Linked DNA regions of Homo sapiens: region 2 is linked to region 1. Evidence: fine-mapped expression QTL. A gene starts in region 1. The other region holds a variant in brackets. All regions are shown on one strand. Distances are between the middles of the regions.

What was found. PIP is the estimated chance that this variant, and not a neighbour inherited with it, causes the effect.
Region 2: its variant is the best candidate, but not a certain one, in a credible set for the expression of DDHD2 in whole blood (TOPMed, PIP 0.60).

Annotation. Positions count from the first base shown.
Region 1 is chr8:38,225,912-38,238,072 of GRCh38, forward strand. It overlaps DDHD2 (DDHD domain containing 2), which reads left to right and starts at 5,674. Exons shown (of 18, transcript NM_015214.3): 1 at 5,674-5,948; 2 at 7,076-7,303; 3 at 8,483-8,673; 4 at 11,627-11,716. The coding sequence starts at 7,084. RefSeq lists silencers at 5,027-5,076, 5,647-6,316 and an enhancer at 5,976-6,475.
Region 2 is chr8:38,253,506-38,265,544 of GRCh38, forward strand. It overlaps DDHD2 (DDHD domain containing 2), which reads left to right. Exons shown (of 18, transcript NM_015214.3): 16 at 51-213; 17 at 6,535-6,642; 18 at 7,095-9,331. The coding sequence ends at 6,616. It overlaps PLPP5 (phospholipid phosphatase 5), which reads right to left. Exons shown (of 7, transcript NM_001102559.2): 7 at 9,625-11,099. The coding sequence ends at 10,939. Among named protein-coding and RNA genes, the nearest start is that of PLPP5, 9.7 kb to the right of the region's middle. The variant CTTGT/C (reference allele first, on the strand shown) is at 7,529.

The DNA.
Region 1 (12,161 bases):
TTGTAGTCCTGTCTAGATTGGGTTGTTGTAGTTTCCCACAGACCTTAATCTCGGAGCATGGTAATACTGAGAGACGCCCTAAGGCACCGCCCATATTCCACACTTACTCTTCCTTACCTTCACTAGGGAGTAGTAGGCCAATTTCCCCTTGATAGTCTGGATCAGTCACCCCAGCAACATAGTAATTCCCTTCTTGGCCTTTTGACTCAGATGCATGAGGAGCCCAAAGTGGCTGGGTGTCAGTCTGAATTTCCAGTTCAGTGGAATCGTTGTGGTTCCTGGTGGCAGCATTCCTCCCTGTGGAACTAAGACCTTTAGGCCAGCAGAGCATAAAATCTTGGGAATAGGCAGCAAAAATTTTGCTAGTGGGTCACTAGGGATAATGGTGAGTGCTGCCACTCCCATTTCTGCCCCTTGATTCCTGGATGTATGAATCCTGGCTATGGGAGAAACAGTTCCATATATTGGATGCCGATTCAGAGCACCTATAGGTTGTCCCAGTCCGGCTAAGTATTACCACCTAGCTGGTGCTGTAACTGTGATTTCAAAAGACCATTTCACCACTCTGTCAAGCCAGCTGCTTCAGGATGGTGGGCAACATGGTAAGACCAGTGAATTCCATGAGCATGAGCCCATTTTCACACTTTCTTGGCTGTGAAGTGAGTCAGAGCACTGCTGGGTCAGAGCACTGCTGTATGGAACACTATGACAGTGGATAAGGCTTTCTGTAAATCTAGGGATGATGGTTTTGGCTGAAGCATTATGGGCAGGGAATGCAAATCCTATCCAGTGTCTATTCTAGTAAGAGCAAAACATTGCCCCTTCCCTGATGGAAGCCATCCAGTGTAATCAGCCTGCCACCAGGTGGCTGGCTGATCACCCCAGGTAATGGTGCCACAATCAGGGGCTCAGTGCTGGTCTCTATTGCTGTCAGATTGAGCACTCAGAGGTAGCCACAGCCAGGTCAGCCTTGGTGAGTGGGAGTCCATGTTGCTGAGCCATGCAAAAACATTTATGCCTGCTACCATGGCCAATTTCTTCATGAGCAATGACAGGGGTGACTGGGCAATGACAGGGGTGGCAGGGGCCAGAGGCTGACTAGTATCCACAGAATAGGTCATCCTATCTACTTGGTTATTAAAGTTCTCTTCTGCTGAGGTCACCCTTTGGTGAGCATTCACATGGGACACAAATTTATCTTCACACCTTCTGCCCCCTCAAAGAGGTTTGTTCACCACCTCACATGCCAATCTCTTCTGGAAACACCCTCACAGACACATCACAGACACACCCAGAAGTAATGTTTTACCAGTTCTCTAGGTATTCCTTAATCTAGTCAAGCTGACACCTAAAATTAACCATCACAATATGGACCCCTCTGATTAAGTGTTCTAGTCAAATCAGAATCTTGTTGGATTCTGAAAATCTACGTTTTAATCTATGTTTCTGAATCTACATTTCAGATCATGTTGGATCTGAAAATCTACATTTTAAGAACCTACTTAGGCCTGGGTGTGGTGGCTCATGCCTGTAATCCCAGCACTTTGGGAGGCCAAAGTGGGAGGATCGCTTGAGCCCAGGAGTTTGAGACCAGCCTGGGCAACATAGTAAGACCCTGTCTCTACAAATAAAAAAATTCGCAGGATGTGGTGGTGCACACCTGTGATCTCAGCTACTTGGAAGGCTGAGGTAGGAGGATCATCTGAGCCTGGGAGGTCGAAGCTGCAGTGAGTGGTGAAAGTTTGAAAATCACTGTCAGAGCCCAAAGCCCTGGTCTTGTTATTGTATAGTCAGCGTCAGAGACAACTGTGAAGTTTTCTTCACTCTGGATGCCTAGGTGTTAATCTGGGATTGAGGACTTCTGCCTCTAAAAACAATGATTCCAGCTTTGGATATAAGATCCAGTTGTTTATGACCCCTACATTCTTGGTTTTGCTCTTTAAACAACTTACTGGCCATTAGCGTTATCTTCTGCACTAGGAGCATGGGGTCAGCAAGCTACTACCTGAGATCAAATTAAACCCCTGCCTGCACTTTACTGGGACACAGCCACACTCATCAGTTTACATCTCCTCTCTGGTTGCTTTAGTGCTGCAACAGGAGAAGTGATTAGTTGTGACAGAGCCTTATGGCCTACAGAACCTAAAGAATTTATCTGGCCCTTTACAGAAAAAAAGTTCGCTGCCTCTTGCACTAGAACATTGAAAGGGAAAAAGTAGAGATTGTTTTACATTTTACCTGTTAAGGCTTGTCTGGTAAAAGGCTGATATACAACCACAAACAACAGCCAGTAACATTAAGTGTGTTTTTATTATTTATTATTTAAGACAGAGTCTCGCTCTGTCGCCCAGGCTGCAGTGCAGTGGCAAGATCTCAGCCACTGCAAGCTCCGCCTCCCGGGTTCACACCATTCTCCTGCCTCAGCCTCTTGAGTAGCTGGGACTACAGGAGCCCACCACCAAGCCTGGCTAATTTTTTGTATTTTTAGCAGAAACAGGGTTTCACCGTGTTAGCCAGGATGGTCTCGATCTCCTGACTTCGTGATCCACCCGCCTCAGCCTCCCAAAGTTTTTACAGGCATGAGCCACCGCGCCCGGCCATGGGTTTTTATTTTTAAGGGGCACAGTAAGATATTCTATTTGTCTGAAACTACCTATGTATGCAGACTTTTGGGGAACCTAAAATTTATACTGTGTGGATCCCAAATACTTGCATCCAGATCATGTGTGGTAACTATTTAAAATGCAGATTCCTGCTGGGCACTTTAGGAGGCCGAAGTGGGAGGATCACTTGAGCCTAGAGTTCAAGACCAGACTGGGCAATGTAGTGAGACCCTGTCTCTAAGAAAAATTTAAAAATTAACCAGATATAGTGATTACGGCTCACTGCAACCTCCCCTTCCTGGGCTCAAGCCATTCTCCCGCCTCAGCCATCTGAGTAGTTGGGACTATAGGTCTGTGCCACCATGCTCAGCTAATTTTTTTTTTTTTTTTTAGAGGTGGGTTTCGTCATGTTGCTCAGGATGGTCTCAAACTTCTGGACTCATGCAATCCGCCAGCCTCAGCCTCCCAAAGTGCTTGATTACAGCATGAGTCACTGTGGCCCATAAAACCATTTTGTTGCATACCAAAAGTAAGATGGTGGTGTCTTGAAGAAAAAGAACTTGAGTGACTATTTGAATTGGAAGCTGAACTAGATGCTCTTTTTTCATGCAACATCATTTTTATTTGAAAGTATAAGGGACAAACTATGGCTATTTGTATGTAAGTATTTAGCAGAAATTTATTTGAAAACAAAGGAGACTTGTCACTTCAAGGAAGACAATTTATCATTTGTTGCCAATGATAAAATTTGACCTTTTAAGAAAAAAGCAGAATATTGGAAAACTTGTACCTGCTACTCTGAGCTTGACAGCTTCCCAATATTAAAGACTTTTCTGATGAGATCGGTAATTTTTAAAAAATTGTATAATAAAATATATTAACATTTGGAAGATCTACATAGCTCAGTGAACTGATACTTTCCCAAATGAACAATACATGTCTTAAGTCACACATGGGTAAGAGATCCATTCAAAGTGCAAGATAGGCTGCTTTGCCTATGGAGTAGCCATTCTTTTATTCCTTTACTTTCTTAATAAACTTGCTTTCACTTTACTCAAAACAACAAAAATAAAACAAAGTGCAAGACAGAAAAATGGATTTTAATAGTATCAGAATATGTGAAGTTTACTGATATATTTTCAAACTGCACATTGCAATCCACTTTTTTTTTGAGACAGCCCTCCAAATTTGAGAACAGCTGGTATGGAGGCTACAACAGGATTTGAAGATAGAAAACCTAAATTCAAGTTCCAGTTCTGTCACTTACCTGACTGATTTTAGACAAGTTACTTAGGTGCAGGCTCTGAAGTCACACTGTGTGGGTTCGTGATTTTAGCTCCACCCCTTGCTAAATCGGCCTGCCTGGGCCTCCCAAAGTGCTGAGATTAACAGGCGTGAGCCGCTGTGCCCGGCCTTGCAGAAGCTATTCTAAGTGTAATAAATTTGAAGGGAAGGTGTTAACTTGGGGATATTTGTGTGTGGCTGTTAATTTGCAAAGAGAATAAATGTGTTATAAAAAATTGTTTTCTTTTTCTGTTTGTGAAGAAATAACAAAACTGAAATAGGCCGGGCAAGGTGGCTCACGCCTGTAATCCCAGCACTTTGGGAGGCCGAGGCGGGTGGATCACGAGGTCAAGAGATCGAGACCATCCTGGCCAACATGGTGAAACCCCGTCTCTAGTAAAAATACAAAAATTAGCTGGGCGCGGTGGCGCATGCCTATAATCCCAGCTATTCCGGAGGCTGAGGCAGGAGAATCGCTTGAATCTGGGAGGCGGAGGTTGCAGTGAGCCGAGATCGTGCTACTGCACTCCAGCCGGGTGACATAGTGAGACTCCGTCTCAAAAACAAAAAACAAAAAACAAAAACACAAAAACTGAAAAAAAATGCCCTATAATCTAGTTAGAATATAGGAAAATATCTTTTTAAATACCAAAAGGTATTAAAATGAAATACTAAGGAGAGTCGGGCAGGGCCTGTACTCGACCTCATGACTGCGGGAAATTTCTCTTTTTTTCTTTTTTTGAGATGGAGTCTCCCTCTGTTGCCCAGGCTGGAGTGCAGTGGCTGCGATCTTGGCTCACTGCAACCTCCGCCTCCCGGGTTCAAGTGATCCTCCCACCTCAGCCTCCCAAGCAGCTGGAATTACAGGCGCGAGCCACCACCCCCGGCTAATTTTTATATTTTTAGTAGAGATGCCGTTTCACCATGTTGGCCAGGCTGGTCTTGAACTCCTGGCCTCCCAAAGTGTTGGGATTACAAGCGTGAGCCACTGCGTCCAGCCCCTTTCAACTTTTCACCTCAGTTATGTCTTCCTGTTTGGACAGCAGTATCTCATCTCCAACCTCCCTGGCATCTTTTAAATCCTGTTAAGGTTGCCTCTACAAAACAAAACAAAAAAAAATTATTAATTTTATTGTTTGTTTAGAGACTAGTGTCGCAGTGTTACCCAGGCTGGAGTGCACTGGCGCCATCTGGGCTCATGCAGCTGGCACCAATGGGCTGGGGCGCTCCTTCAGCCTCAGCCTCCTGAGTAGCTCAGACCCAGGCGCTGACACCACGCCCGACACCTCTACATTTTTTAGGGATACCTTTTTGGTAACCTCTAAATCATAATAAATGCACGGAGGACGGGCCAAAGCCTTTTTGCCTGGCAAATGCTAGTGACACCCGTTCTCAGCACCCAGAAGCAGAGGCCAGGAGCGGGGCGGCTGTGGCTGCGCCCTCCGCCCTACTCCGCTAATCCCGGGGCCGCGCAGTCCCTGCGTCCGGTGATCACCGCGCTGCTCCTGGCGCACTAGTAGGGTCTGTAGCGTATCCCGAGGATCATTCCGACTTTCCCGCCCCGTACGTGAGGGGCCGCCTTGAAGCCTCTTCCGCCACGGACACTCGAAACTGATCTTGAAGCCCCTGCCGTCACGGATACTAGAAACTGATCTCGAAGCCCCTTCCGCCACGGACACTCGAAACTCTCCCCCACTGTTAGACCTCAGCAGCCAGCAGCCCGCCGCCCGGCGCTGCAGCTCCCTGCCCGCAGGAGCCACGTCTCGCGCGACTCCCCCCACCTCTCGCGACACTTGCCGCCCGTGCCCTGCGGCCCTGCACGCCCCACCCGCGGTCGCGCGCCGCGCTCCCCGCCGCCTCACCTTTTCGCCTGGCATCCGGGCCCGCTACTCGCCCACTGGGAGCGCCGTGGCGCCTGGTGTTCGGCGCGAGCCCGGCGGGGCTGCAGGTTCCGCCCTGCTCCGCCGCGCCCCGCCCGGGCTGGGGTAAAGGCCGCGGCCGGGCCATGCAGTGTCCTCCTCAGGGAGGGCAGGAGAGCCTGAGGAGTGGCGGGGCCGCCAGGTGAGACCGCGTCGGGCGGGCGGCTGGACCGAGGGAGGCCAGGCTGGGTGCAGGTGGGCGGCGCAGCGCTGCGGGGCCGGGATGCGGGGCGGGGGAACCTCGGCTCCCGGGAAGCCCCGAGCCTGGGGGAACCCTGGGCACCCTGTGAACCCTGTGGTCTGCACTGGCTGCCCTGCTGCTGTCGCGGGGCTGCGGGCGGACGACCTGAGCCCGAGCTCCGAGGGCCCGGAGCGGGGCGCCAGGGCCTAGGGTCGCGGGGGCCAGGGGCGCGCCAGGGTGGCTGAGGTAAGTCTGTGTGGGGAAAAGGACAATGGAGCCGAAAGCCGGCGTCTGCCGTCCCGCCGGGCCCGCGCGAGATGCCCTCCTGCCCCCCGCCCTACGAGGCAGCTTAGAAGTGTCCTTCTGGTGCCTGCGGCGCTGATCGTTGCCGAGTGGAAGGAGTGTTGGAGAGGTAGAAACAGCTGGTCAGAGCCGCCTCTGCGGGAGGAGGCTTTTGAGGTCGCTTGTTAGCTTTCATCTGAGATTCTGGCTATGGGAGTGGGCGTGCGTGTGCGCACCGTGGCCCCAGGCGAGGTTTCGTCTTTTCCCAATTTGTACCACCACCCATTAAGCGACTTCAAGGATCCATCAAAAATGATTGGTTCCTAAGCGAACAGTTTTATTTTTTGTATTTTAAGATTCCATTAGTTGTGTAATGGTAGGGGCCTGGAGCCCAAAACCTTGGCGTTACTAGGACAGGGCATGACCCAGCTGACTTGGAGTAAATTTTCTGCCTTTAACTACATTTAGATTGGAAATTAGGGTAAAATGTTTTTGTTGCAATCTAGTTTCGAGCATGTGGTCCTGTGATTCTGGGTTTGTTTTATAACTTATGGACTGAGTAAAATTACCCAGTTTACTGAGAGAATTGAGAACTCTGTGCAATGGTTGATCTAATAGAAGCATTTTATTTAAAGCTTCCACCCATCCAGTTGCTAATTTATGTTATTTCTCTTTTAAATTATGTAGATTTTGTTGTTGTTGTTGTTGCAGAAATGGCTCCGTAAAATGATTAGTTTTGTGCGTGTGTGTGTGCGAACAGTTACACAGTTAAGTTCGTTTTCCTGATAGTTTTCTTTTGTCTTTAGAGAGCGAAATGTCATCAGTGCAGTCACAACAGGAGCAGTTGTCCCAGTCAGATCCATCTCCGTCACCAAACTCATGTAGTTCCTTTGAGCTAATAGACATGGATGCTGGCAGCTTGTATGAACCAGTTTCTCCCCATTGGTTTTATTGTAAGATAATAGATTCTAAGGAGACATGGATTCCTTTCAACTCTGAGGATTCACAGCAGCTGGAAGAGGCATATAGCTCTGGTAGGTGAAAATTATGACTTGGAATAGACAAAGACTCTCCCCTCTTCAAACTATAATATAATGGTCCTTATAGTGAGTGCTATGAAAACCAAATTTTAGATTTTTCCAGTTACATAATTTCTTACAGCATTTTATATAGAACTTCTGCACTAATACCTAGCCAATCAATAATATTCAAGAATTTGGTCTGTATTTTGAAAACAGTATCTATTATTATTTCTGCATAGTTACCCAATAATTTTTTTTTCCTTAGAGTTGGGGGCCTAATTATATTGTCTAGGCTGGTCTTGAACTCCTAGGTTCAAGCAATCTTTCTGACTGGGCCTCCCAAAGTGCTGGGATTACAGGCGTGTTACACCCTGTGCCCAGCCCCCCAGTAATATCTTTAATGTTCTAGCTTATGTTTTACTTTGTTTTATAAAGAATGTGTAAGGCTGGGCACAGTGGCTCACACCTGTAATCCCAGCACTTTGGGAGGCCAAGGCGAGCAGATCACTTGAGGTCAGAGTTTGAGATTAGCCTGGCCAGCAATGGTGAAACCCCTTCTCTACTAAAAATACAAAAATTAGCTGGGCGGCGGGGTTTGTGCCTGTAGTCTCAGCTACCTGGGAGGCTGAGGCAGGAGAATTGCTCAAACCCGGGAGGCGGAGGTTACAGTGAGCCAAGATTGTGCCACTGGACTCCAGCCTGGGTGATAGAGTGAGACTTGTCTCAAAAAAAAAAAAAGAAAAGAAAAGAAAAAAGTATGTATAGAGTGGGGTGCAGAAGAATGAACTCTCTAACTTGTCACTTGTCTTTTCTTCTTTTATAAAACAAGAATGATTCTATTTATACTGAATCATCATGATGGTTATTAATTTACCTTATGGTTCCTCAAGCAAATTCAGAAAAATCACATTATATAATTTTTTTAAGGGGCACTGCTATCTTTCCCCAGAAAAAGAACAAAACTGGGTAGTATTTTTTTCATATTTCATTAAAATCAGGAATGGTTTTGACGGTTTGTAAAGTAGGTAGTGAAAAAGATATGAATTAAATTCCATTTTGTTTGGTGTTTAGTCAAGTAGGAACTTTTCATTCATGTGTTTCATAACATTATTTAGAGTATAACTGAGAATTGTATGTTGGGAGATTTATTTTGAAATATGTACTTCTTTTCCCCTTTTCAATCCTTGAAAGGAAAAGGTTGTAATGGGAGAGTTGTTCCTACTGATGGGGGCAGATATGATGTTCATTTGGGGGAGAGGATGCGGTATGCTGTATACTGGGATGAACTGGCATCGGAAGTGAGACGATGTACGTGGTTTTACAAGGGGGACAAAGACAATAAGTATGTTCCCTACTCGGAGAGCTTCAGCCAAGTTTTAGAGGTATTCTTTTGACTCTTTTTTTACTTATTCTTTCTTTCTCTTATTTAATAATCTTTTCTTTCCTTTGTAATTTATTTTGTGAAATTTCCAGAAAGACTTTGGTTCTGTCTGCATCACATTATAAAACATAATAAAGCATTTCTATTTACAAGCAAGTTTCAGGATAAAGTAGTCTTATTTTCAGATTTTTTTTTTTTTTTTGAGACGGAGTCTCGCTCTGTTGCCCAGGCTGGAGTGCAGTGGTGCGATCTTGGCTCACTGCAACCTCCACCTCCCCGGTTCAAGTGATTCTCATGCCTCAGCCTCCCAAGTAGCTGGGATTACAGGTGGCCGCCACCACACCTGGCTAATTTTTTTTAAGGGGCACTGCTATCTTTCCTCAGAAAAAGAACAAAACTGTTTGGGTAGTATTTTTTTTCATGTTTCATTAAAATCAGGAATGGTTTGACGGTTTGTAAAGTAGGTAGTGAAAAAGATATGAATTAGATTCCATTTTGTTTGGTGTTTAGCCAAGTAGGAACTGTTCATTCATGTGTTTCATAACATTATTTAGAATATAACTCAGAATTGTATGTTGGGAGATTTATTTTGAAATATGTACTTCTTTTCCCCTTTTCAATCCTTGAAAGGAAAATATTGTAATGGGAGAGTTGTTCCTACTGATTTTTATTAGAGATGGGGTTTCACCATGTTGGCTAGGCTTGTCTCGAACTCCTGACCTCAAATGATCTGCTGGCCTCGGCCTCCCAAAGTGCTGGGATTACAGGTGTGAGCTACTGTGCTTGGCCTTTTTCAGATTTTAAAATACGATGGAAATGGTTGTGGTGTTTTAAGGTGTAAAAAAAGAAAAAAATACTCCGGGCCTGGTGGCTCACGCCTGTAATCCCAGCAGTTTGGGGGGCTGAGGTGGGCGGATCACCTGAGGTTGGGAGTTTGAGACCAGCCTGACCAACATGGAGAAACCTCGTCTCTACTAAAAATACAAAATTAGCTGGGCACGGTGGTGCACGCCTGTAATCCCAGCTACTTGGGAGGCTGAGGCAAGAGAATTGCTTGAACCCGGGAGGTGGAGGTTGTGGTGAGTGGAGATCGCACCATTGAACTACAGCCTGGGCAACGAGCAAAACTCCATCTCAAAAAAAAAAAAAAAAACTGGTGGGCACAGTGGCTCTCACCTGTAATCCCAGCACATTGTGAGGCCAAGGCAGGAGGATGACTTGAGCCCAGGAATTTGAGAACAGCCTGGGCAACAAAGCAAGACCCCACCACTACAAAAAAAAGTACACGCGCACACACACACACACACACACACACACAAATACAAATGCAAACTGTATTATGCTATGGTCACAGGATTGATCTTTTTTAGCTTTTATTTTTCTTGCTCTGAAAACTGAAATTTTTCTTTAAATTGGAGTAGAGCGTTAGTATTTTTTGTTGTTGTTGAAACAAGAGTGTCGTTCTGTTTCCCAGGCTGGAGTGCAGTGGCACGATCTTGGCTCATTGCAAGCTCTGCCTCCTGGGTTCTTGCCATTCTCCTGTCTCAGCCTCCCAAGTAGCTGGGACTACAGGCGCCCGCCACCACGCCCAGCTAATTTTTTGTATTTTTAGTAGAGACGGGGTTTCACCGTGTTAGCCAGGATGGTCTCAAGCTCCTGACCTCGTGATCCGCCCGCCTCGGCCTCCCAAAGTGCTGGGATTACAGGCGTGAGCCACCACGCCCAGCCTTTTTCTTGTTTTTGGTTTTTTTTTTTTGCTTTTTTTGTTTTTGTTTTTGTTTTTGTTTTTGAGACAGAGTCTCACTCTGTTGCCCAGGCTGGAGTCCAGTGGTGCGATCTCGGCTCACTGCAACCTCTGCATCCTGGGTTCAAGCACTTTTCCTGCCTCACCCTCCTAAGTAGCTGGGATTACAAGCGTGCCTCACCACACTGGCTAATTTTTTTTTTTTGAGACGGAGTTCCACTCTTGTTTCCCAGGCTGTAGTGTAGTGGCGCGATCTCAGCTCACCGCAACCTCTGCCTCCTGGGTTCAAGCGATTCTCCTGCCTCAGCCTCCCGAGTAGCTGGGATTACAGGCATGTGCCACAATGCCTGGCTAATTTTGTATTTGTAGTAGAGATGGGATGGGATTTCTTCATGTTGGTCAGGCTGGTCTCGAACTCCCAACCTCAGGTGATCCACCCGCCTTGGCCTTCCAAAGTGCTGGGATTATAGGCGTGAGCCACCGCGCCCGGCTCACACTGGCTAATTTTTGTATTTTTAGTAAAAATGGGGTTTTGCCGTGTTGGCCAGGCTGGTCTCGAATGCCAGACCTCAGGTGATCTTCCTGCCTTGGCCTCCCAAAGTATTGTGATTACAGGCATGAGCCACCACGCCTGGTCTAGAACATTAATATTAATATATTAAAATGTGAACACTAATTATCTAGCGTAGATGATGGAATTAGGAGTATTTTTCCCCCTTTGTCCTGGTGCTACTATCAGTTGTAATTTCAAAATAATTTAAAAATAGGCTGGGTGCTGTGGCTCATGCTTGTAATCCCAGCACTTTGGGAGGCCGAGGCAGGCAGATCACCTGAGGTCAGGAGTTTGAGACCAGCCTAGCCATTATGGCCAAACCCCGTATCTACTAAAACTACAAAAGTTAGCCGAATGTGGTGGCGGGTGCCTGTAATCCCAGCTACTTGGGAGACTGAGGCAAGAGAACTGCTTGAACCTGGGGGGCGGAGGTTGCAGTGAGCCGAGATTGTGCCACTGCAACCCAGCCTGGGCGACAGAGTAAGACAAACAAAACAAAACAAACAACAACAACAACAAAAAGATTTAAAAATAAATTTGATAAATTGGAGTAGGATATTCTTATTGAAACTCATTAATACATAGTATTCTTGTTAATAGGTTCAGTTTAATAGGAAAGCTACTAGAGAACTCTAATGAAATGTGTTTTCTTTTAAGGAAACTTACATGCTTGCTGTAACTTTGGATGAATGGAAAAAGAAACTGGAATCTCCCAACAGAGAAATTATTATTTTACACAATCCAAAGGTAAAACAAAGCATTTCTCTTGTCGGGATAAAAAGTTAATTGCGCTATTAGGGAGAACTCAATTGGTTTCTTTTGCTAAGCACTCTGTGTAGGATAACCTTTGTCAAATTTTATATTGAATTCACAGTTATGAAACTTAAAAACTTGTAGCCACTACTGTTATTTACCCAACTCAGCTTATACAAAATAATTTTCTTATGGAAAATTATGCCACTGTAGAATAAGAAAATCACTGACATATTATGTGAGCATGTCTTCCATGTAGAAAGGGACTATTGACAGATCTGTTAGCCTAATATATTTTCACGGTTCTCATTTCAAGCCATACGAGTTGTATATCAAAACTCCAGTTCAGATTTTACTGTGTGGTTTGAAAGACATGATTCTACACTTAAAACTGCATTGTATAGAGATGATTGTATTGCAGAATATTTTTATTGCTCTG
Region 2 (12,039 bases), 28 kb after region 1:
CCTGAAGGCCAAAAGGTTTTAGATTCTTATTATGGTTCTTCCATATCCAGATGTTAACACAGAAGAGACCTCTGTGGCAGTTAAAGAAGAAGTCCTGCCTATCAATGTGGGGATGCTGAATGGAGGCCAACGCATTGACTATGTGCTACAGGAGAAGCCTATTGAAAGTTTTAATGAGTATTTATTTGCTTTACAAAGCCATCTATGCTACTGGTAAATGTTGTTTATTTTTGTCTGTTTTGTTTGTTTACCTGTTTCATAGATATTTGATAGATGTAGAAAAAGGAGGATAGGCCAGGTGCATTGGCTCAGGCTTATAATCTCAGCACTTTGGGAGGCCAAGGTGGGAGGATTGCTTGAGTTCAGGAGTTTGAGACCGGCCTGGGAAACATAGCAAGACCTCATCTCTACAAAAACTAAATTAGCTGGGCGTGGTGGTATGCGCTTATAGTCCCAGCTACTTGGGAGGCTGAGGCAGGAGAGTCACTTGAGCCCAGGAGTTTGAGACCACAGTGAGCCATGATCACACCACTGCACTCTAGCCTGGGTGACAGAGCAAGACCCTGTCTCAAAAAAAAAAAAAGACCTGTGTACCTTTGGAATTAAAATGACTTCTCATTTAGACAGCACAAGCACAATCATGTCATTTCAAGAATCTGGTTTAAACACACTGTTGTTTTATTTTGCAGCTGGGTAGAACATGGTTGAGGCTAATGATGCCAACAACCATAAGTTCAATTATCTTGGTGTTAAAAATGTGTCTTTTGGCCATTTAGGTGCACATGAATGAACTGGAACAAATATTACTGTTGCTGGAAGTCTTATAGCAAACCCATTTGAAAGCATTTATGGTAGCTGTGACAGAATTAATTATTATTATTTTATCATTATTTGAGACAGGGTCTTGCTGTGTCACCCAGGCTGGAGTGCAGTGGCATGCTCATGGTTCACTGCAGCCTTGACCTCCTGGACTCAAGTGATCCTCCCCCCTCAGTCTCCCTAATAAGTAGGATGACCGTTGTGCACCACCATGCCCAGCTAATTTTTGTACAGACAGGGTTTCGCCATGTTGCCCAGGCTGGTCTAAACTTCAAGCAATCAATCCGCCTCCACCTCTGCCTCCCAAAGTGCTGGAATTACAGGCATGAGCCACCACGCCTGGGCAGAATTATTATTAAATATAATTGGTTACCTGATGGATTGTAGAATGGATTAATGATGCTTATTGAAATTCAGGCCGGGTATGGTGGCTCATGCTTATAATCCCAGCACTTTGGGAGGCCGAGGAAGGAGGATTGCTTGAGGCCAGGAGTTGAAGGCTGCAGTGAGCCATGATGGTGCCACCGCACCCTAGCCTGAGTGACAGAGCGAGACCATGTCTGAAAAAAAATAGTATAAAATAATACTAATTAATCCCTGAAGAAGTTGACATAAAAATAAAGTAAGGGAAATAAGATGGGTCAGAGATAAGTGTTTTAAAAATGAAAGCTCAGACCAGCATGGCCAACATGGCGAAATCCTGTCTCTACCAAAAATACAATTAGCCAGGTGTGGTGGTGCATGCCTGTAGTCCCAGCTACTAGGGAGGCTGAGACAGGAGAATTGCCTGAACCTGGGAGGCAGAGGTTGCAGTGAGCGAGATCACGGCCACCGCAGTCCAGCCTGGGTGACAGAGCGAGACTCCATCTCAAAAAAAAAAAAAAAAAAAGCAAGCTCAAAGGTCCTAAGAATAATTTTTCCCTTGAATTCTGATGAGGAATTATCATCTGATGCAATCACTATCGTTTGTATATAATATATACAGTAGAGGCCAAAAGCAATCTTGTAAGGGGCTAAAATAATGCTAAGAATGATCTCTGGTGATCTGGCTTGATAGAAAAGAAAGCAGAGTTCTTTTAATATTTCTGTGTGGGCAGTACATTCATATGGTTTGAAATTCAAAGAAAGAAAAATAATGAAAAGCCTCTTTTTTATTTTGTTTCTTGCAATCAGTTTCTTCCCCATATACAACTAATGTAAAATGTCTTCCAGCCATCTATTTTATGCCTCCATAATAAATATATGTATGTGAATATATTCTTTCCCTTATTTTAAAAACATAAATAGTAAATTAAAGGCAATGTTCTGTGCCTTGTTTTTTCTACTAGTATATCTTGGCATTTTTTAACCTATTATATGTTGTTTCCTCATTTTTTTTTTTAGCTGCATAGTCTTCCGTTATGTAAATACACCATAATTTATTTAAGCCGTCCTCTACTCATGGACTTTCAGGTTTCCTTTTCTTTTGCACACACCTTGTTCATGTCATTTCACCTACTCATGAGTATATCTGTAATGTAAAATACTTCGAATTGAAATCAATGGCATAAAGGGTATATACATTTGTAAAATTTGATAAATATTGACAAATAAGAGGTTGTACCTTTTTATACTCCCAGCAATAATGTACGAAAGTGTGTGTTTCTCCACAGCTTTTCCAACAGTTTTAATATTTTTAAATCTTTGCCAATTTGTTGGGTGAAAATGTACAATATACTGTACATATTAAAAGAATACACATTTGATGAGTTTTGACATGTATACACCTGTGAAGCCATCACTACAATCAACTTAACATATTCATCACTCTCAAAAGTTTCCTTGTGCCTTTTGTAATCCCTCCCTTCTTTTCTCTTCCCCACTCCTCCTAATTTCCAGGGAGCCACTGCTCTGTTCTGCCACTGTAGATTAGTTTGCTTATGACTTGTATTTGGAATCCTACAGTATATACTTTTGTTGTTTGGCGTTTAGCTTATTTATTTATTTATTTATTTTTTTGAGATAGTCTTGTTCTGTCATCCAGGCTGGAGTGCAGTGACACAATCATGGCTCACTGTTGCCTAGATCTCTGGGCTCAAGGGATCCTCTTAGGCTCAAGGGATCCTCCCATCTCAGCCTCCCAAGAAGCTGGGACTGCAGGCATGTGCCACTGGGCCTAATTTTTTTTAAATTTATTTTCGTAGAGATGGGGTCTCACTATGTTGCCCCTGCTGGTGTCAAACTCCCGGCCTCAAGCAGTCCTCTTGCTTTGGCCCCCCAAGCTGTTGGTATTATAGACATGATCAATGTTGTGTATATCAATAGCATATCCTTTTTATTGCTGAGTAGTATTCCATTATATGGATATATCAGTTTGTCCATTTACCTGTTGATGGATATTTTGATAGTTTCCAGTTTTTGGCTATTAACAAAGCTGCTAGGAACATTCATGTATAAGACTTTACATGGACATATTCTTGGGTAAATAGGAATGGAATGGGTGGATACTATATGGAAGTGTATTTTTAAAAGAAACTGCCAAACTGTTTTGCCACCAGCAGTTTACATCTCCATCAGCAGTGTTTGAGAGTTTCAGTTGCTCCACATCAACTTTTTTTTATTTTTTATTTTTATTTTTGTGAGGCAGTCTCACTCTATCACCCAGGCTGGAGTGCAGTGGTGCGATTATAGCTCACTGCAGCCTTGACCTTGGACTCAAGCCATCCTCCCATCTCAGCCTCCTGAGCAGCTGGGAGTAGCTAGGACCACAGGTGTGTAACACTATGCCCAGCTAATTTTTCAAATTTTTTTGTGGAAATGGGGTTTTGCCATGTTGCCCAGGCTGGTCTTGAACTCCTGGGCTCCAGTGATCCTCCCACTTGGCTTCCCAAAGTGCTGGGATTACAGGTGTAAGCCACCATATCTGGCCAACAAGTTTTTTTTTTTTTTTTTTTTTTTTTTTTGAGAAGGAGTCTCACTCTGTCACCCAGGCTGGAGTGCTGTGGCACGATCTTGGCTCACTGCAACCTCTGCCTCCCAGGTTCAAGCAATTCTTGTACCTCAGCTTCCTGAGTAGCTGGGATTACAGGTGTGCGCTACCATGCCTAGCTAATTTTTGTATTGTTAGTAGAGATGGGGTTTCACCATGTTGGCCAGGCTGGTCTCAAACTTCTGACCTCAGGTGATCCACCTGCCCCTGCCTCCCAAAGTGCTGGGATTACAGGCATGAGCCACTGCGCCTGCTCAAAATTTTTATTTTTATGTAATCAAATGTGTTGTCATTTGCTTTTTGGTTTCTGGAATTTGTGTCATACTCAGAAAGATCTTCCTTACTTTCCAAAAAAATTCTTACCACAGTATTTTTTTTTTTTTTTTTTTTGAGATGGAATCTCACCCTGTTGCCCAGGCCAGAGTGCAATGGTGTGATCTCGGCTCACTGCAACCTCTGCCTGCCAGGTTCAAGTGATTCTCCTGCCTCAGCCTCCCAAGTAGCCAGCATTACAGGTGTGCACCACCATACCTGGCTAATTTTGTCTTTTTAGTAGAGACAGGGTTTCACCATGTTGGTCAGGCTGGTCTCAAACTCCTGACCTCAAGTGATCCCACCTCAGCCTCCCAAAGTGCTGGGATTACAGGCGTGAGCCACTGCACCCAGCCAACACAGTATATTGTTATATATATAATTTTTTTTAGAAACAGGATCTTGCATGCAGTGGCTTCTCACAGGCATGATCTTAGTGCACTAGACCCTTGAATTCCTGGGCTCAAGCAATCCTCTTGCCTTGGCCTCCTGAGTAGTTGGGACTGCAGGTGTGCAACACCATGCCTGGCTATTCTAATATTTTATATCTAATTTTTACATATAAATCTTTGATTCAGATTCAGGTCCTTTTTTCCCCACGTCTCAACACTATTAATAGATTTGAGATTCTAAATTAAATTAATTAAATTCTTTTTTTTTTTTTTGAGACAGAGTCTTGCTGTGTTGCCCAGGCTGAAGTGCAGTAGTGCAGTAGTTGGCTCACTGCAACCTACGCCATCTGGGTTCAAATGATTTTCCTGCCTCAGCTTCTTGAGTAGCCGGGACTATAGGCATGTGCCACCATGCCCAGCTAATTTTTGTATTTTTAGTAGAGATGGGGTTTCACTATGTTGGCCAGGCTGGTCTCGAACGCCTGACCTCAGGTGATCTGCCTGCCTCGACCTCCCAGTGTTAGGATTATAGGTGTGAGCCACCGTGCCTGGCCACTTAATTAAATTCCTATACATAAATGGGACTATTTCTCAACTTCTTACTTGTTGATTTGCTTATTTATGTACCATTTTAATATCTGATAGAGCTAATTCCCACTTGTTGATACAGGAATTTCTTAAGCTGGGGTCTGTGTATATGAGTTTGTGGGAGATGAGGGAAGTCTGTGAATCCAATGAAATACACATTTATAATTGTGGTTGCAATGTGATCCTTTCTGGGGAAGAATCCGTAATTTCATTAGATTCTCAAAAGGATGCATGACTCAATAAATGTTGAACCACAGATCTAGAAGAATAATAGAGGCTTATATCCTTAAGGCAGTCCCTCATGAGTGTTAATCTTTTTAAATCAAATTTTGTTATGAAGTGTGGATATAAGTAATTGCTTGTGCATACGTAGAATAATATCTGGAAAACGCATGAGAAATTGATAACATTGGTTGTCAGAAGATGGGAACTGGTGGTGGTTGAGGAACAAAGGTGGGAGGGAGACTTCGTTACTTTCTTATATTGTTGGAATTTGGAACCTTATGATTGTATTACCTTTTCCAAAAAGTGCATAATATTTTAAAAATTAAGGTGACCAACTGGATAACTCTTCAATAGTGTCTCTAGAATGATCTCTGTGGAAAAGGAACAATTCTTGGTTATTTCTTACTGGCTTTTTTTTTTTTTGAAATGGAGTCTCACTCTGTCGCCCAGGCTGAAGTGCAGTGACACTCTGCAACCTTCGGCTCACTGCAACCTTTGCCTCCTCGGTTCAAGCGATTCTCCTGCCTCAGCCTCCTGAGTAGCTGGGACTACAGTCGCATGCTGCCACGCCTGGCTAGTTTTTTTTTTTTTTTTTTAGACGGAGTCTCGCCTATCTGCCAGGCTGGAGTGCAGTGGTGCAATCTCGGCTCACTGCAACCTCCGCTTCCTGGGTTCAAGCAATTCTTCTGCCTCAGTCTCCCCAGTAACTGGGACTACAGGCGCATACCACCACACCCTGCTAATTTTTGTATTTTTAGTAGAGATGGGGTTTCACCATATTGGCCAGGCTGGTCTCAAACTCCTGACCTTGTGATCCACCCACCTTGGCCTCCCAAAGTGCTGGGACTACAGGCGTGAGCCACCGTGCCCAGCCCTAGTTTTTGTATTTTTAGTGGAGATGGGGTTTCACCATGTTGGCCAGGCTGGCTCAAATTCCAGACCTGTAGTGACTTGTCCACCTCAGCCTCCCAGAGTGTTAGGATTACAGGCATGAGCCACCGCACCTGGCCTCTCTTCCTAGCTTTTTTATATTACTAGACTTAATGCCAGAGTTCTTTGCCAGGTCACCTTCCAAACCACTGCCAATTACATTACTTCTGAATCTCATTTCTTTGCAGAAGTAAAAAATAAACTTGCAAGATGGTTGTATGGATTAAATGAGATAATATATGTAAAACATTTGGCACAAGTGTTAGTTCCTTTTCTCAACATAATTTTTTCTCTTTATAGGGAGTCTGAAGATACAGTATTGCTCGTCCTCAAAGAGATCTACCAAACCCAGGGTATCTTCCTTGATCAGCCTTTACAGTAAAAATGACCCATCTATGGCTGCTTAATGTAAGTTTTAAAATGTCATATATATAGTGTAATTCTTACATATTAACATGTTATAATGAACTATGGAGCCTCAAGCTCTTTTTAAATATACTAGCTGTTGCCTGTCACCAAGATCTAGGCTGCTATTCATTTTTAGAGGGACTGGTAGAAATTCATGGGGAAAAAAACACAGTAGCCCATTTAGAGGAAGATTAGTGTATGTCTGTTTTGCTAGAGATTTTGTCCAATGACACCTGTCATTTTTTAGGATCTAAACTCAGAGTTTTAATGGTTCTGTTATCTAAGAGTTACTGTGGCAACAGTTATGATTTTAATTACCAACCACCCATCCTGAGATTTAAATTACTCAGCCTTTTAGATGTGAAATTACAAAGTCTGTGTATTCGACTCTGGCATTCTCTGTGGTTGCCTTCCAGTTGTGACTGCAGCTCTTCTCCCACTTTCTTCCCTAGACGGACATTGAGGGATCCTTCCCCAGAAAATCCACCTGTTTGTTGCTGCAATTTTCCTCTCCTCAGCTGCGTCATTTCCTGCATGTTGCCTGCCACTTACTCACCACTGGGGTCTTTGGAAGATAATCTTCCTCTTTGGAAATGAATGGAAAAGCAAAAGGCCCTATTACTTTTAACCACTGGCTTCATATAAACACTTGCCATTTTTTTCTGCATAGCTGGGGGTGGTTTGTGTCTTTAATTCTTTGATGATAGTTTATAGTTGCCACACTTTATTGATTAGTACTTGACAGGGTGTAAAGCCTATTTTGGGTTTGATTTGTTTTGGGTGGGGTAGACATGTTTTTAAGGAACTTATTGCTTATCTTTAGAAAATGTTCTAGTTTGGAAACAGATTCTTGAGATTCAGAAGGCATTTTGGAGTACACTTATCT[CTTGT/C]TTGTGTTGAACTGAAGGCTAAGTCTCAGTGGACATGGAAAAGACTTTTGGGTGATTTATTTTTGAACCTGCATTTCTTTCTTATGTGTAGTGTATGAAGAAAGACTAGAATGTAGCTTTAAAAAAGTGTTGTTTACTCTCTTAGAACTGACAGACTTATTGCCAGAAATCACTGATGTTCATTGTTTTTGCAACTGTTTGAGCTGCTGTAAGAGTCTAAAGTTGACAAGTTAGTTCATGTTAGGTGCATCTTTATAAAGCAAAGATGTTGTATATCCTAGGCCTCCCTTTTATATTTGATAGAAGTTATTTGCTAATAGCTTCTATTCTTACGTTGAAAATAGTTGTAAAAGCTGATGAACCTGAAATTGTGTAGCCTCTACAGGCTGCTGAGGTTCTAAATAAAACCTTTTAGTGGTGCCTTTATGGTGAAACAGAATTTGTCACCTGCCATTTCTACTTGAGCTAAGGTAGTATTGTGTATCCTCTTTCCTTCTTAGGTATCCATAATCCACAAAGCATATTTAAAAGGCTCTTGGCACGGGCAGCATTGGTTGAGCAGGTAGGTTTGGCTAGGGGGAAATGTTTAACTTGTTCTGAAAGAAAAACTTATGTCTGTAGGGTCCAAGAAACAGCTATTCCAGAGTCAGTGTCAGCTGAGTCTGGAACATATGAAGTGAGGTTTACTTCTAAGAACACAAGTGACTGCACACTAATTTTGTCAAGGCATCTTTTCACTACTTTGCTGTAGATTTTTCTTCTTCATTGGTCAGTTTGTCATTGTCTTTGTAGTTCTCTTTATGATAATCCTTTATACTTGCTCTCAGATTCCACAGGCCTCTGTTTATAGAGTGGCAAAGGCAGGCGAGCTGTGGTTTATTGTTTATAAATTTTTTTATAAATGTTATGGTATTCAAAGCCACTGACATTTAATATTTACTGAAGCCATTCCTTAGACAGCAGTGGTCTTTATCCCTTTCTGGAAAGAAAAGGAAAATGAAGGGTAATTACTGTCACCATGGAGATTGTAGAGGTAAGGTTGGGGTATAGGTCAGGCCTGGCCTTTCTTTGTCATCTGCTTATAGTCTAGTGCTAAGTATGCCACTAAGTTTCAGATATATGGAATACTTTATTTTTTTAAAGGTATATAAACTCTGAGTTATTGAGAATTAAGTATTCACTGTATATTAAGGGGAAGCTTTTGCCAAGTTGTGGTCTTCAAATTTATGTTTACTCTTCCTATTGGCAGAATAGGTGCTATTTAAGAGTAAACCAAAGGATAAGCAGAGGGAGTCCCTATAACCAAAGATGGACAGCATAGCCCTGGATAGCCAGATAAACCACTCTTTGTATTAAGAAATGTTTCTTTCCTAGTGGTGAGGGGTGGGTAACTGTGAAAGAGCTTTATATCTTGTCTATTCATGGTATTATAGCTGTATATTCCCAGGATGATAAGCTTGATTGAAATCCTGTATTTAGTCATATATTATTTGCGCTGCTTCATTTGTATCATGTGCAATCTCTAGACCAACCCTATTTTTAAACTCTGGTACAGCATCATTTTGTACATATTCCCAGCTGCAGAACTAGTATCACTTATCTCAGCAAAAGAGATTGTTTGCATGGAAAGATTAATAGCACTGATTAGATTTCTAATATTTTGCATTTTTGAAATGTTTGTTTTCTACGTGATTATATTTAAAACTTTAGTAAATACTAACATGAAACCATATTGACTAGTGGCCTACTTTTACCTGGACTCACCCGTCTCAAAGTCAAGAAAATCAGTACAGTCACGATTTTCTCTGTCTTTATGTATTACTAAAACAAAAAAATAGGTTTTGGGCAAAGAACTAATATGTAAGTTCTTTCCTGTTGACTGGTATTTTAATTGTCATAGGCAGAATTTAAGTTCAGAATTTAAAGCATGGCAATTATAAGAGACTTTCCTTTGGTATTTATAAATATTAGCCAGTACTATAGATAACAGCAGTTGAATCACTTAGGGCGGATGGGGAATTCAATGTTTTGCTTTACTAAAGTTCCAGCCCCTTAATGTACTTTAAATATTTAAAAAAGCACACATTTACCATTTTATTTGAATATCAGGTTTACTGAAGGAAAAAGATACATTGAAAATATAGGAACATACACATAAAAGACAATGTCATATTTAAAGTATAATCACAATAAAGAGAAAGGGAGCTGTAGGTCCTATGGCATCCATTCTGATGACATCCCATAATTGTTCCTTATATTCCATTGTGAAGAAGGGGCAGAAAAAGATTCATCTGTCCTTCAGATGACGATACCTGTCATTTTTCTTTTCTACCTTAGTCACTTGGCAGTGTTGGTGCATTTGAGCAGATCTTCAGTCATGAATGGAAGGAAAGAAGCTCACAAGTACAGTTATGGTCAAATGAGGTAGAAACAGTCATCTGTTAGTAGTGCTGAAACCACACTCCTGACCATTTTCTTCTTTATTATTGTTTTCACTTAGTAATTCAACAAATTGTTTATGCCCACGGTGTTCAAAATGCACAGCAGTACCAGATGGCTGGACTCAGATAAGATGCACACAAAAGTGATAAATTACCCTAGATTCGACATTTTCCTATTTAAGGCTTGATGGAATTGTCATCAGAGAAGGTAAACAGAATCAAAGTAATTTAGTTGGCCATGCCCTAGATTTTAAGATTTTGAGCTATATGAAATGGAAATTAAGTTTTGATAATGAACTCTAGCTTCTGAGACAAGGTGGGGCTATGTAAAGGCTTCTTTGTGACAAGATCCTTCTAAGAATGGCATTTAAATTAAATGTAAAAACACTGTAGATCTTCAGATATTAATCTGATAGACCAGATTCATAAGGTGTTGGACACCTTTGAAAGATCCTTTTACTAGAACATGTGGCATACAGTAGTGGAAAAGAACCGTAACTCCTCAAGATAGATGAGCAGGGGCAAAAGTGTGTAATCATTTGGAGGCAGAATACAGTGTGGCTTATGTCCTCACTTGCACCTTGGAAGGGGAAAAAAAGGCTAGAATTTCTTGTCTTGTGCATGGTCCGGTTAGGAGGGCTAGTTCACCTGTTCTCTATTGAGATAGATTCAATTTTTTTTTTTTTTGAGATGGGGTCTCACTCTGTTGCCTAGGCTGGAGTGCAGTGGTGCGATCTCGGCTCACTGGAACCTCCAGCTCCCAGGTTCAAGCAATTCTCCTACCTCAGCCTCCCAGGTAGCTGGGATTACGGCACACAACTCCTGGCTAATTTTTGTATTTTTAGTAGAGACAGGGTTCACCATGTTGGCCAGGCTGGTCCTGACCTCAGGTGATCCACCCTCCTCAGCCTCCCAAAGTGTTGGGATTACAGGCATGAGCCACCACGCCCGGCCAGATTCAATTTTTAAATATCAAAACAATAAGAATCCCCAGGCTTCTGTGCAGTGGAAAGTACAAGTTTGTCTTGAAATGGTTTATGGCATTCTGCATCAGTCAGAGGAGGATAATACTGCCGATAGCAGACATAGGCAAATGTCATTCCAATCATGGATCCAACTAGTACATCTGAAGAGAGTGGAAACAAGGTCTTCTCTTAATATTAGGCTCCTAAATCCTATTACATACACATAGCATAGAGGACCTGGCCCTCCAGGATACTCTACTGTGGGGCTAAAATAACCTCAATTCCAGACTTATGATTTCTAAATAAAATCTTTTTATTCTCAATTTTATCATAGTTACAGTATTATCATTGTCAGGTTGCTTTCTGAACACCAAATCAAAACACATCTTAAGTAAGTATAATAAGCTTTGTTCAGAGTGTACTAAATTAGAATTTTTCTAACTCAGAAGAGTAACAAAGGTCCACTTATTGCTATTCATCTGCCCATTTTCACCATTTAAAGGGTCCTAGAGGAAGGAATAAAGTATTTTAAGAGTTGCTTCTCGCCGGGCACGGTGACTCACGCCTGTAATCCCAGCACTTTGGGAGGACCAGGCAGATGGATCCCGAGGTCAGGAGATTGAGACCAGCCTGACCAACAAGTGAAACCCTGTCTCTACTAAAAATACAAAAATTAGCCGGGCGTGGTGGCATGTGCCTGTAATCCCAGATACTCAGGAGGCTGAGGCAGGAGACTTGCTTGAACCCAGGAGGTGGAGGTTGCAGTGAGCCGAGATGGTGCCACTGCACTCCAGCCTGGGCGCAGAGCTAGACTCTGTCTCAAAAAAAAAAAAAAAAAAAAGAGTTGCTTCTCTTTGCAAAAAACTAGTTTATTTAAAAATTTAAAATAGGGTTCCTGAGGACCTGTGGGCAATACCTCCAGCGTTTTTTTTGGAATTGTGTCAGGTTCAAGCCATTCTCCTGCCTCAGCCTCCCAAGTAGCTGGGATTAAAGGCGTGTGCCACCATGCCCAGCTGATTTTGTATTTTTAGTAGAGATAGCGTTTCACTGTTGGTCAGGCTGGTCTTCAACTCCTGACCTCAGGTGATCCACCTACCTCAC